Homo sapiens: one gene and its partner. The protein of the gene in region 2 interacts with the protein of the main gene of each other region in a pairwise test. Each region holds a gene or a part of one and is shown on either strand. Other genes may lie near its edges.

Region 1 (3,600 bases), on a different chromosome or scaffold from region 2:
CCTGGGATTGGCTTGCAGGATTTACCAAGGACCTGAAATTAAATCCAGCAAATAATTTCTGAGCATCTGTGATGTGTCAGGTACTATGCTAGGTACCGCACTGATTAAGATGAGTAAGCACAGGGCCTGCACCAGAGACCTCAGCCTCAGAAAGCAGCCCTATCATGGCCCAACCCACCACCACTAAACGTAAGTTCTATGGTTCTATACACTCCCAATGTCTTACAGGACCGTTATCTTTTTTTTTTTTTTTTTTTTAACTCACAGACCTGAGGGAAGAACTCTTAGTCCTTTTCAAATGATATCTGAGCCAACCATCATCCCACCCTGAGGTTTCACCTGAGTTGGGTAGTTGACAAACTGTAGTGCTGAATTGCTGGAGACCATGGCACCCAGATAGGAGATAGAACAGGCAGCATAGAGCCAGCTCCGGGTACGATCCACCCTGGCAGTGTCAAAAAACTGGATCACTGGGAGAAGACAAAAAAAAAAAAAAAAAAAGAAAAGAAAAGAAAAAAAAAAAAAAACAAGAGAAACCTGGTGGGGCTAGGATGGACCACTAAGCAAAGCTGAAGCCACATGAAAGGAACTTGTCTGTCAAACAAGACACAAGCTATTTCTGTCCTGTTACACTGGGAAATCTCTGAAAATTATTCATCTTTCCAATTCTACCTAAGCCCAACAAAAGACCACATGCAGGGTGGAGGTGGGGGCCTCATTCAGTTCAAGGGACCAGTCAGCTCTGCTGCTAGTCCCCAGGGAACAAAGAGAGAATGCTCAAAGCATGCTTGAAGCTGACACACAAAAGAAACTCAAAGGGAAAGAAAAAAATGTTTTAAGTATTTTCAATGGGGATTTGGAATATAGAAGACCCATTCTCTGAACATTTCTAACTCAGAAGCTGATAAAAATTGGGGAAATAATATTTTACTCCACTTCAAAGTCATTAGTTTTACAGACTTCACAGAGAGGCTGTGTAAGTACAAAATGGGGTGGAGATCATGAGTTAGCCTTTAAGGTTGAATCAATGCTTAATGCCCAGCATACTGAGGGAACTTGGGGTGGTGGGGTACCCAACAAATTACTATCTGGGTACTCACAGATCTTGGCAAACACAGCATTGATCACACATTGAATGAAGACCAAAGTTAAGGCAAAGGTGAACGTCTCCTGCTTGGCTCCTTCCCCATACTTTCCTCTTGTTCTAGAAATGAAATGCATGAGAAAAGAGGGAGAAATTAGTGTATTTCACTCACTGTCATCTAATATATCCCGAGCCACTGAAAACTTTAAAATTATCTTGCCTCTCTGGATGTAGGCAGAGTTTGTTAAGGACCACTAGGCTCATTTGCAAAAGGGGCTGATTTTACTGGATCTAGAAACTAGACATCCCAGCCTACTGATTCCAAAGCCTAAGAAAAGAATACCCGAAAAAGACGGAGAGGAAACATGCAGAACGAGATAGTGAAATCAGGTACCCCAGGCAGGAGGAGACGGTATTTCGGCTATGGCACCAAGGCCGAGGACGAATAGGTTGTTTGCAAGCATCTGGGAGTACCAAAAGGGGGCCGACTCGGGTCCTGTTTGAGGAATAGAAGTCTCAGCCTGTAAAACGCAGGCCCTTAGAACCAAGCGGGGAAAAACAGCTAAGAAAAGAAAATAACCAAGTCCGAAGAATCCAGAAAATAATCCTGGAGTTCTGGAATTCTGGGTAGGCTCAGCCATAGCTGCAAAAGTAGTAGGGTGCTAAGAGGGCGACAGCCGGGCAGGAGGACAAGAGGAAAGCCCGGGTCCAGAGGCAGAAGGCCCGGGATCCCTGTCACAGGCTGGGGAGAGACTGTCGGCCCGCCCCCGGGGTCGCTCACATCTTTTCCTGCAGGATCCCATAGTAAAAATAGCAGACAAAGACACCCAGGAAGCAGAGCGGCAGGCGCAGCCGGTCGGGCACCAGGGAGCTGCTAGAGGCCATGAGACGCCCAGAGGAGCCGACTGGAGACCCGCTCACAACCGGCACCGGCAGCAGCGGCGGCGGAGGCGACAGCTCCAGCCGGACATCGCCGACCGGCGGCAGGGGCCTCATAGGAGCTGCATGCGACCGCTGTCCAGCAGGGCCCAGCAGTCACTACCAGAACTGCCGGCTCATGGCTGCCAAGGGGGAAACTCCTCAGAACCCAGCAACCACTTCCTAGGAAAGAAAACCCGCCCTGGGACCTTGGCTCCATCCCTGAGGGCCAGGGGAACCGGCAGCCTCGAGACTGATCCCTCGCCCTGGAGATTTTTCCAATCAGGCAACTCTGAGGACAACTGCGACCCAGAGCACCACAGGGTGTCCTAGAGCCACCTGGGCGTAGAATAATGACGTATAAGGATGTGGAGGCCACCAATTGGCTGCGCTGTGCGAAGACGGACAGGTAGGCGGGGCGGGAGGAGGTGTGGTCGGCAGAGCAAATCCAATAGTCTTTTCCGCGGCGGGCGGCCAGGCTTCTGCTGGGTCCTAATGCCAAATTCCTTACTGGAGCTTCAGCGCCGTCTAGCTGCTGCCCAGCGTCAGCGACTTTACCTGCTCATTACCTAGGCACATCACTAGGCTTCCAAGGGGGAGAGCGGCACAGTAAGTCTCGGCTTGGTCACTTAAAGGCGGGGTAACCTACCCGTGTCACCCAAGTTCTGAGCCAGAGTTTTCCAGGTCTGGAAACTAGGGATAATTAGTAATAGCCACCTTGTCGCCTCTTGGCTGTTGTGAGGATCAAATAAGAGTGTTTTGTAAACTGTAAAGTATGCTGTGCAAGCTTAAGGTATTATTAGTCATCACTGTTTGTCAGCCCTGATCTTATTTCCTCACATCGAGGGGTGGAAATGGAAGCTTACTGAAGTCAGTTTTCTTCCAAGTCTTAACAACTCACCAACAATGGCGCAAACCCTTCGGCCGCGCTCCTGAATATTTCCCATTAATGAGCTCCTCGTTGGATCCCTTCCTCATGCAAGTGTTGGGTCTTCACTTGCTGGCACGAATTGCCAGGGCAAGACTGACCTCAGGTCTTCCTACTACTACCTCCAACCCCCTACTTAATTGGCCCAAATCTCCGGCCACCTGGTGGACTCTGGGCTGCTCTCTAGGTCGAGGCTCCTCTTCTAGCAGCCTGCTCTTTTGGCACAGCCTCAGGCAAAGGAAGGAAATACTGGGCAGCACCACACCCATCGCTCCGGGCCTGACTCAATAAGGCTTTGCGGGGGAGCCAGAAGTCTTTTAGAGGGAGGAGTAAGGGATAGAAGATAGGGTGTCCCCAGCCCACTGTCTCCTCGATATTAGTGGCATGGGAAAGCCCCATACATTTGCTCTCTTGCTCACTAGCTTACTCTACTGGCTCAGCCCGCGATGCCAGGGCACCAAATAGCTGGGAAGAGAGACCTGCCAGCTCTACTTCTTTACCAGCTGGGACCTCAAACAATTCGCTTGTCCTGAGTCGAGTTTCCTCACGTGAAATTAATGGGAATATAATAACAAGCAGGAGAGCGCTGTGGTTAGAAACATGGGCACTGGATTCAAATGATCAGGTTTCCAATCCTAGCTCTCCCACTTCATATCTGTGTCTTTTGGGG
Region 2 (3,500 bases):
AGAAGCTGGTCATGGAAGGGAAGGCTTCCCCATACAACATCCCTGCCCCTGCTGGCAGATGCCCTGCAGGGAACAGGAGCGAGCCCAGGAGGGCCCTGCACAGCTCCGGACTCCATTTCTTTTCACATGGGTGCTGTCCAGCAAGCGATCTGCGTGTCTGTCCAGCAGATGGGGCCTCCATGAGGGGCCCATTTTGACGACTGATAAATGAAACTCTATCTGCATTTTCCAGGAGTGTAAGAACGCTATCTGCCATCAGGAGACCAAAGGCAGCCAGCGCTTTCTCCTATGGCTTGACTTACACAGTGTCAGACCTTCAGGATTTAAGTATCGAGCAAAGGTCAACTCTTGAATTTGCTAACTGGTGTCTCTTGTTTGAACATTTGCCAGGTTCTGGTCTTTAGCCATGACTTACTGGGTGGGAGTGTTTAAGGTCAGTTCCTAATTAGAGGGCTCCTGGTCCTCTCTGTCCTATCCCCTACATTGCCTAATAGGGTGGCATTCTAGGGGACATCTCTCAGGGAAACCTTACAAGGTGCAAGTCCCCGATCACTTCCCAGCCACTTCACTCACTTTCTGCTTCTCATCCAAGTTGCTGCCGCTTGCCTCAGCCTTGGGACACCCCACCCCCCAAACTGGCCACCAATTAGATGCAGTGACCCCAACTTCCCTCTTTCATGCAGCACCCCATGTCCTCCCACAGATGCTTCTCGTTTTAAGGAGATTTACTGCTGATTACGATGGGGAAACAGATGGTGGGGGAGGGGCACAACAACAGAACAAACACAGGGAAGTTACCCAAAAGTTCCTGAAATCTATTCAAACCATGGCTATTGCTTACAGCCGACTCATGGGTCAGGCTTCGTGCAGGTGCACACGGGTATTCCCTCATCTCATCCTCTGTGCCACCCTTTGGGGTGAGGGTTGTTGGTCCCATTTTAGAGCTGGGGAAACTGAGGCTCAGTCCAAAGCAGGATGGAAATCCACACCTGTTGGCCTCTCCAGCAAACTGCCGTCCTCAAGGCTCCCAGCCCTTTCCTTTTCTTTTTTTCCTGAGAGTGCCTCATTCCTGAGCAGGCTCTCTGGGCCAGCCTTCCACCAGGGAGGGCACAGCAACACCTGCTCCCCCTGCCCTGCTGCCCAGCGTTGCTCTTCTGTTCCAAGCCCTTTACCTGCCCCCACCCACCCCCAGCCATGGGTATTCCTGCAGGTAGGTTGTGGTGTGTTCTAGGAGAGGAATAGGGGAGTTCTGAAAGCAAGGGTGAGGTGGCCACAGCCCCCGAGTGACCCACTATGGGGCTTCACGTGGGGGCCCCCGGGAATGAGGGGAGGGAGGGATGACAAGTTGTTAAGGGCCGGCCACAGGAAATAAGTTGCGAGCCAAAAGCCACCTGGCACCAGAGCAATCCTTTCTCAGTTACCTCTGTAGCCAGGCAGACGGGAAGAGGCCAGGGAGGGGAGGCAAGGGTAAAAAACTCCCTAGCCCCTTCTTGGAGGACTCAGACTAACCAAGACTCAAGGGCAGGGTCAGGAACTAGGCAAGGGGCACTGTCACCTGGCCAGGGTGGGAGGTGAAAGATGTTTGTGCCCATGACTTAAAGCCCAGCCCCACCACTTATTTGCTGTGTGGTTCCTTAGGCAAGTTACTTAACCCCTCTGTGCCTCCGTTTGCCCATCAGTAAAATGGGGACAATGGTAGGACCAAATTCTTGGACTTGCAATGAGGAGTAAGTGAGAGCATTTTTATTATATGGTGGACTTCTATTCCCTGGAAAGAGCATGCGTTGAAAGCTCTGAGATTGAGTCCTAGCTCTGCCACTTACTAAGTTACGTAACATTCAGTCAGTTATGTAACCCCACTGATCTTAGCCTTCTCATCTGGAAAAAGAAAGGGTTGAGCTAAGTTGTCTGTAAGACCCCTTCCACTTCTGATATTCCAAAGATCATTTTTTGTCCCAACAATTGCTACTAATTACAAAACAAGCACGCCCATACCTTAAACAGGTCCCCCAAGGATCTCTGAGTGGCAGCAACTTGCTTTTATAAAGCAACTTGAGCTACTGCATATGATCATTCATTCAGAAGACATGTATTGAGTGCCGAGCCAGCACTGCCTGGGAGCCAAAGGGGCTGGTGGGCACTTGGCCCCCGGAAATGGCATGCCTCCTTTCTCTCGGCCATTTCGCCCAGCTCCTGGCGGGAAGTGCAGCTGCTCCCAACTCTCAAATGAAAAGGAATTGTGCCTGCATCGTGCCTTTGCGAATCCCAGGGGCTGAACTGGGGGCTGGAGCAGGTCACTCGCACCGTCCACCCACCCCAGGCAGGGAGGAATACTCACGGCGGTTGGAGGCTGCCTGCCTTTGCTTGTAGACCAGGAGCAGGATGAGGGGGAGGCAGAGGATTCCTACGATGCAGGCACCCGTAGCCAGGGCTGCAGCCGTGATGTCTGAAAGGGCAGAGAGGTAGCCAAGGTGAAGCCCCATTCCCATTGCTCCTCCTGAGCATAAACTGAGGCTCAGAGAGGGAAGGCCAGGAAGCAGGAGACCCGCCTTTCCCCAGAGTCCCACAGCTAGACCCCCAGCAACCTACAGAGGCATGGAAGATAAGGCGGTTCTCCTTTCAAAGAGAGCCCTGTGCCTGCCGCCCTATGCCCCTGGAGCACTCAGAAACAAGACCTGTCACCTACAGCTCAGGCAGCTCCAGGCAAGAGAGGGAACAGAGTCCTCATCCCAGCCCACAAGGTACAGCTGGAACACCCTTGGCTACAGGTTGTTCTCTGAAAAGGGAGAGCAGGGCCTTCGCAGACCCCATGCCACAGAGCTCAAGGTCAAAAGAAGCCTAAGTGATGAAAGTTTTGAAAATAGACAGTGGTGACGGTTGCACATTGTGAATGTAATTAATGCCACCAAACTGTAGGCTTAAAATGGTTGAAATGGCAAATTTTACATTATATATGTTTTATCATAATAGATAAAAAGCCCCAACTCATCCCAGAGACTCCTTAGCTCTGGGATGGGGCCTCTAGAACCCCTTGATCTCACCACACAAGTCACAGGAGAAACACCCGGGGTGAGAACTAGAAAAACGTGAATCCTTGTACAATGTTTTTCAATTTTAAACTTATTAAACTACCAAAAAAAGTACAAGTTTAAAAAATATTCGAATCTCCTCCTCCCCTTGTACCAAGACCCCCTCTGAAGAGATCATCCCTGTGTGCCGGTTTTTGTGTTATGGTCCTAGTTATATTCCCTGCAAATACAGCAGACGCAGCATCATATGACAATGCTTTTCCCACTGAGCACAGCTTGGACATCTCTCTGTCTCCCCTGCCTCATTCTGCTTAGAGTTTTATCACATGGCTCCCACTAAATTTATTGAAGCAGTCCCCTGTTGGTAGACATGTTGTTTCCATTTTCAGCATAACTAATAATGTAGCAATGAACTTGTGCACGCAGCCTGGCTCACTCAGCAAGGAAATCTGTAGTAAATTCCTAGCGGTC

The links.
Region 1: the proteins of VSIR (region 2) and SLC35B1 interact in a two-hybrid assay, tested with the Homo sapiens proteins (one large-scale study listed by BioGRID and IntAct).

Annotation. Positions count from the first base shown.
Region 1 is NC_000017.11:49,705,865-49,709,464, forward strand, and holds the start of SLC35B1 (solute carrier family 35 member B1), read right to left. Parts: upstream 2,101-3,600; 5' UTR 2,081-2,100; coding exon of another isoform or gene 1,970-2,080; coding exon 1,866-1,969; intron 1,581-1,865; coding exon of another isoform or gene 1,479-1,580; intron 1,205-1,478; coding exon 1,101-1,204; intron 471-1,100; coding exon 340-470; intron 33-339; coding exon 2-32; intron 1-1.
Region 2 is NC_000010.11:71,753,021-71,756,520, forward strand, and holds part of VSIR (V-type immunoglobulin domain-containing suppressor of T-cell activation precursor), read right to left. Parts: intron 2,447-3,500; coding exon 2,339-2,446; intron 1-2,338.